Linked DNA regions of Homo sapiens. The protein of the gene in region 1 interacts with the protein of each later gene in a biochemical or structural test. Each region holds a gene or a part of one and is shown on either strand. Other genes may lie near its edges.

Region 1 (3,500 bases):
ATGTCCTACTAAAAACCTGCCTGTGACCTTTATCATTGCTAAAGTTTGAAATGTACTTTGTTACAGGAAAGACTACGGCTAGGGCCTATATTATCTTTTTCTCTTTTGTTCTGTGTAAGTAAGTATAGGGGCAGAGTAGTTAGCTTGAACTTAGTTCTTTCTTTGTTCTGGACTATTTGCTATCCTCTCACCAGTGACAATTAACCAGTATAGAAATATAGATGTTTCTACATTGTTCATATACTTGAACATATATTTCTTTATGTAGATACTCACACATAAACTAGTTATATATTTGTGGGTTATATATACTAGTCAATCTATCTATCTGTCTATCTATCTATCTATCTATCTATCTATCAGTTCTCCATGTTTGTCTATTTGGCGTTCCCATGAACTTCAGACCTTCGCCTGTGTTCTCTTTTCTCCATTTGGTTACGTATCATTGCCTACTATGTGTTGATCACTCTGATTCTCCATCTCTAGACTCATCCCTCAGAAACACGGAACTTACTACCTTTCCTAAATCCAGACATTAACATGCTCCCCAAGTCCTGAAATTTTGCTTTGTAATAATCTCTAATAACTTCTTGCTTTGACACCTCCATTGCCATCATCTTAATTCATGGCTTTATTATTTCTCACCTGTAAAATTGTAATAGTTTTTTTAATCAGTCTGAAGTCTCATCCTTTTTTTAATGTAATCTACAGCTTAAAAAGTAAAATAAAAAGTGAAGGGTTACTGATTTCTTCTCATTGCCTTTGGTATAAATTCTAATCTTTTTTGCCAGAGAAACTGGTTCCACTAATGATCTGGGGGCTAGGCCTGGAGCTGGGAAGGGATCTTTTTTCTTTTCTTTCTTTCTTCCTTTCTTTCTTTCTTTCTTTCTTTCTTTCTTTCTTTCTTTCTTTCTTTCTTTCTTTCTTTCTTTTTTCTTTCTTTTTCTTCTATGATTGATTAAAAGAAAACAAACAGGAGGTAGTTTTAACACCCACCTCTATACTTTCTCAAGGTGTTTAAGGTTCTGGGCAAATCCTACTTCTTCTATTATGTTCTCTTATGTCACTTTTGCCACAAAATATTTCCATTGAATTGCACACTTTTTATCACCTTTTCTTGGCATTTTTCAAGTCATTTCAATCTGCTCTTTTTTGTGATGATGATTGATGATGATGATGACATGTGAATTAGTGGATTTCTTGACATTGTAACCTACATGAAATCAGGTATAGGAGACACAAAAGGCATAAACTCATAGTTCCCATACCTAATTTTTCACCAGACACTGAATAAATCATAGATTAAAAAAATAAAACTGCATATTGTAGTGACAAAGGAAAGGAAAATTTTCAAAGAGGGAAGTCAAAAAGAGGGAGAATATGAGATAAAAAAATTAACCAGAGGCGAAGTGGGAGGATGAAGACAGCAGGACTATTTTGTCCAGATTAAATTAAGTTGATTTTGGATCTAGATGTTTACAGTCTTGCCTTTTTGTTTTTGTTTGTTTGTTTGTTTGTTTTTTCTTTGCTCCCTTTCTTACTCTCCTTATCTCACCTCTCGTCTGGAAAGAGCCTCCTGACTTCCTAAAAGTTCATAGTTTGAGAATGTTTTTCCTAAATTTTCTTTGATCTGCTCTTTGGACATTCTAGGTAATGTAATTTGGAGGGTCAATTTTATTTTTCAGATACACATACCCATAGGAGAAAAAGCAAGGAATGGGAGGGAAATACAAATGTAGCGGAGTGATAACACAAACAGATCAGGTCCAGTCATGGCAATTGCTGGTTTGAACACTGATGCTAGTGCTCTGGGATTGCTTGCAAGGGCAGATGGAATATGGTGCACCCTAGGTGTTGCATTATTTGCACGACAAAAGTTTGTAGAGAGCTGGGAATAATTTCTTTACAGACAGTGTGGTGATGAATGTCAATCTGAGTAGGTAAGGGGCAGAGATTTGTACTGAGGTTGATTCATTCTCTTGGTAAATACACAATGTTCACAAAGGCAAGGTTTCATCTTCAGACCATGTGTGTATATGTCACCTTGGTGCAGAGAGAGAAATTTTTCATCAGTGCTGACCTTTGATTTTTTTTTCTAGACATCTTATAGATTTATGTAGTTATTTACATGGGAAACAATTAGAATGGAAATTTAACATATCTTCAGTTTAAAATTAATTTCTGTCTAGTCTAAATATCTTTGTAAGTACTAGATACTCAATCCCATAGCAGTGGCCTTTTACCAAAGGCTTAGTGCTATGACTTTTGCATACATAAAGACCTCACTTTTTAAGATATGATACACCAGAAAAAAAATATGGCAAGACTTTAGCAATATGATTTGATGCCTATTTCTATATAATACCCAAATATACAGGAATAAAAATTATGGCAATCACTGGATTTTGTGTACCTGGCTCTAACCAATATTTATATTAGAAAATATCTAATTATTGTCTAAAATATTTAATCTTCATTCCTGTTTGTATGTCAGTGTGCTACTTCAATATCAGTCTGTTAAAAGAGTCTAGGAATGACTACTATAAGCAGAGAATTATATGTTCAGGAATCACAACAAAAAACAAGAACAAATAGAGAAACAAAAGCTTTCCTACTCTTTCATCTAGGACAAGAATAAATACACATAAAGTCAATATTAGTGAAGTAAACAAGCATCTTCTATATCCATTCATAGTACCTTCAATTGATTGATTTCTTAACAGACAATCAGCAAAATTATCAGTTTTTATTAGAGATTTTAGTAGAGACCGAGCTTAAACAAATATATTCTATGGTGCTTAACTCTATAGTATTTAAAGATTCAATATTTATTTCCTCTAAAAATGAGTCAAGTGTCTGAAAGGAAAAAGCCACCTAACTGAAACTTCAGTTTCTACTATACAGGGTATTTATTATAAAACTGTAATTACAATGCAATTATATTGAAGTATAAATGATCATCATTCATTTATTTAAGAATATAATCAAAATTTGCATACCTGGAAGAAAACCATCCACCCTCCAAAATAGGGATTTGCTAATGTAGGAGTAGAAGGCAAAAGTTGAGGGTAACTCAGGTAACACACTCATACGTATTAGGATATGAACAGCTGGTATAGCAAACTTGATAGAAATCACTGATAGACAAGAAGACATTCTCTGCATTTTAAATTAAAGTACAATTTGTCTGTGGTCATTCAAGAGATAGTTTAGAGAAACCTATACAAATAACAATGATGCTAAGAGACAATATCAAAATCACAATAAATATCATGGCAATACAGTGTGGCCACTATATTTTAAACACATCCACTTGATGAAAAATATAATAATTTACTGATAAAACATATTAAGCATAATAGAAAATGAGGCAGAAACCACTCCAAGCTGGGAAACATCATGACATCTGTAGTGATAAATATTTTGAAAATCTAACTCTATGAATCTTGTGATTTTTAGCTAAATCAATTTTCACCCTTGAGACCCAATTTCCTCATCTA
Region 2 (3,500 bases), about 160 Mb from region 1:
TGCATTAGTGCTTTTAACAGGTTCCCTTGACTCTTACAAATGTTTACCAGATTGGCTTTTTGAGAGGAAAGGAAGGAAGGAAAGAGGGAGGGAGCGAGGGAGGAAAAGGATGCCGCGCTGTAAGCTGAGGGAGTGTCAGGCAGCAATGAGCATGTCAGGAGGGCAGTGCTGATTTGCGGGGAGATGAAGGTCCATTTTGGGTGCAGAGAAGCCCTTGGTGCCTTTGGCTCACGCAGGGGATTAGATGTCCAGGAAGTGGCTGGATATAAAATGGGCCTCCGAATCATACAGCAGCTACTTTCCACACCAACTTCAAAACCAGACTTCCAGAGTAGATGCCCCACTTCATGGAGTCCCCACCAAATGATCTGGAGTCAGAAGAGGGGTCCTGGCTGCAGATCATATGTGAGAGCTGCCAGAGAACTATCAAAATCTAGGGACTAGGTGACATTTTAAATAATAACAATAATTATCGACATACATTGAGCACACACCCTGTATCGGGCACTGTGCTAAATGCTTAAATACATCATCAAATTTAATCTTTGTAACAACCCCATCAAGTGCTAGCTATCCCCATTTCACAAAGAGAGAAACAAAGTAAGAGAGGTTAAGTAGTTTCCTTAAGGTGATGGGGCAAGGAATTTGTGGAGAGAGGATTCAAGCCCAGGTTGTCTGGCTCCTAAGCCTGGGCACAGTGAGAAGAGAAAGGCGGAAGGTGAGGCTTGATGGCAGAGAGTCATGCATAGTCACGGGATAGGGAGATGGCGAGGACCTGGGAGGCAGAGTGTGGCAACGAGAAAGCAGAAGGTGAGAGAGGGGGCTTACATGGGGTGGCAGGAGCAGAGGGACAGCAGGGTCAGGGGGTGGCAGGGGTGTGAATGGTTAAGACTTAGGGTGCTGGAGAAGCTGGAGAAGGCGAAGGAGGCCTTAGAGCAGGTGGGGGTGCTCTGGTCTGAGTAATCTTGGGCACTGGGAGGTCCCTCCTTATTTACCTGGAAGATTTCTAGGCATGCACCACTTCTAGGAAGCCAAGCTGGTCACCCTCTGAGCTCCATAGCCCCATATGCTCCCCTGGGCTAGCACTGAGTGTCTGTGGGGTGACTCAGAGATGGGAGGCAGCATCCCAGAGCAGAGTTAAAGGTATACTTGTCTGTGTGTGACGGTTGGTGGGGGACAGCATGGCTGGGCAGGAGGAAGGGCGGGGCTGGAGAGTGTCCCCAGTTTCTGGGGCACGGGATGTCCTTTCCAGATGGGTCTAAGCTGTACTCCAGCCTTGACACTGCCCAGCCCGGACCTCTGGTTGACCACAACCCCGCTTTTTGTCTGGTGCTAGGCTATGACCTTAGATGTCCTTGTCCTTCCTGCTAGTATCTCCAGCCTGAGCAGCATCATCTAGAGCCTACTCTGCTCACCGTCCATTCCCTGTGGACCTAGGACATCACTGACCTTTCACATTGACCTTGAAGCGCCGGCTGTCTTGGCCGCCAGATGTGGACACACGGCACTCCCAGAACCCACTGTCCGCAAGAACCAAGCGGGGCACCTCGAACTCAGCTGTGGTCTTCTCTGGCTCCACAATGGCCTTGGTGGACTAAAAGAGATGGGGGAAGGGGACAGGTCACAGGGAACGGGCACCTCTGTGGCAGGCACCCAGGTGTCCGTCTGGACTGATGGCAGGACAGAGGCCCAGTGGCAGCCCCCTCACCAATCAGCCTGACCTCATGTGAGCAATGGTCAGGCCAATGGGTGGGCCCTGCAGAAAGTTCTGAGGGACTAGGGGGTCTTAGGGATCAGCTGTGAAGCAGGCGGCCTGAGGGGCTGGTGGGTTGGGGTGATTGGGGGCTGACCAGGAGCACAGTGCCGTCTGGCTTGCGTAGCTCTATGCTGCCCCGCACGGGGAAGGGGTTCCCTGCAGCTGCACAGTTGATCCGGGGCATCGTCTCTAAGTTGAACTCCAGTTCTGAGGCCATGTTGAGGATCTGGGGGATCCGGTCTGGGGAGAAAGGACACTCATCCTGGAGCTCCCACAGGGGCAGACACGTGACCACCAAAGCGCCCCTCATCCGTGTTCTGTTTCTCAGTGGAGGTATCTACCCAGTCCCTCCAGCCTGAAAACCAGCAAAGGCCCGCATGACTCCTCCAGCGTCCCAGCCCCACATCCCATCAGCTGCAAAGTCTACTTCCTAACCACCTCCCCACTTCCCGATACCGTCTAATACCTGCCAGCAGACCCCTCACCATCCTCCCAGCCAGCACACTAGCTCAGGCCTCATCATTTCTGGTCCCTAGGTACAGAGTCCTCGAGGGTCTCCTGCTCCCGCTCCCCGGCCAGCAGCTAGGGGTCCTTTCTCCAACACGGATCTGACTACCTTGTTCCTTTTTAACAATTCCCTCTTGCCCCATCATATGAAGTGCAAACTCTTTGGCCTTCATTCAAAGGCCCCACGATTTGACCTCTTCTGACCATTTCCCCAGTCCCCCACTCCACTGTCCTGGTACCCAAACCTGAGTCCCCAATCCCTGGGTCCCCTACCCCACTGTCCTGGCACCCAAACCTGAGTCCCCAATCCCTGGGTCCCCTACTCCACTGTCCTGGCACCCAAACCTGAGTCCCCAATCCCTGGGTCCCCTACTCCACTGTCCTGGCACCCAAACCTGAGTCCCCAATCCCTGGGTCTTTGCTCTTGTTCTTTCCTCAGTTATCTCTCTTTTGTCCTTCATATCTAATCTCAGATCACACCTGCTTCCAGACCCTTCTCTGACCTGCTCAGTCTGCCCAGGGGCATCCTCTGGGCTCCCACATTCTCTGGGCTGCTGCCCTTTCCACTATGGCTGGCTGGCAGTGAGCTCCTTGCTGGACTGGCTCCCTGCTGGACTGACTCCCTACCAGACTGACTCCCTGCCAGAGCTCCCTGTCCATCAGACTCTAAGCTCCCTGAGGGCAGGACTTGGACCCTCGTAGGGAAAGGAGGGACTACTCTCTTCCACCGGGGAGATGTGTTTGGTAAAGGCCGACTTATCTTGGGGGGCTCTCAGAGGTCATAGTGCTTATACCTGACTTCTCACAGTGCACTCCATGCCACCCAGAGGGGCAGACACAACCACTGAACCGGTCACAAGTGCCACCATTCTGACACTGGCACTGGAGTCGGCAATCAGCCCCAAAATGACCAGGGGCACAAGCTGGGAATAGAGGAGGTATGATTAGAGGGGCATGGGACAGGGGGCAATGAGGGCACAGATGAGGGCGCAGATGGGGCACAGGTTATACAACAGGCTGAGGATAGAAGGACTGGTCAAGTGAGCAGGAGGGCTTGCTGCGTAAGTCAGAGGCAGAGTGGAGGGTCCGGGTCAAGCTCCTGGCCAGCTGTCTTGGTCAGGGACCATGAGGGTAGGTTAGGCATACCTTCTTGGCACTGGCTTCCTCTCCAGCCAGATCCACAAGAGCAGCCATAGGGGTCTGGGAGGCAGAAGGTGAGGCCCCGGCAGCCTGATAT

Evidence for each region.
Region 2: of the proteins of PTPRC (region 1) and TIE1, one has a biochemical effect on the other in vitro, tested with the Homo sapiens proteins (one large-scale study listed by IntAct).

The regions. Positions count from the first base shown.
Region 1 is NC_000001.11:198,642,040-198,645,539, forward strand, and holds part of PTPRC (receptor-type tyrosine-protein phosphatase C isoform 1 precursor), read left to right. Parts: intron 1-3,500. UniProt on the Homo sapiens protein: Protein tyrosine-protein phosphatase required for T-cell activation through the antigen receptor. Acts as a positive regulator of T-cell coactivation upon binding to DPP4.
Region 2 is NC_000001.11:43,307,482-43,310,981, reverse strand, and holds part of TIE1 (tyrosine-protein kinase receptor Tie-1 isoform 1 precursor), read right to left. Parts: coding exon 3,410-3,500; intron 3,187-3,409; coding exon 3,058-3,186; intron 1,997-3,057; coding exon 1,851-1,996; intron 1,595-1,850; coding exon 1,450-1,594; intron 1-1,449. UniProt on the Homo sapiens protein: Transmembrane tyrosine-protein kinase that may modulate TEK/TIE2 activity and contribute to the regulation of angiogenesis.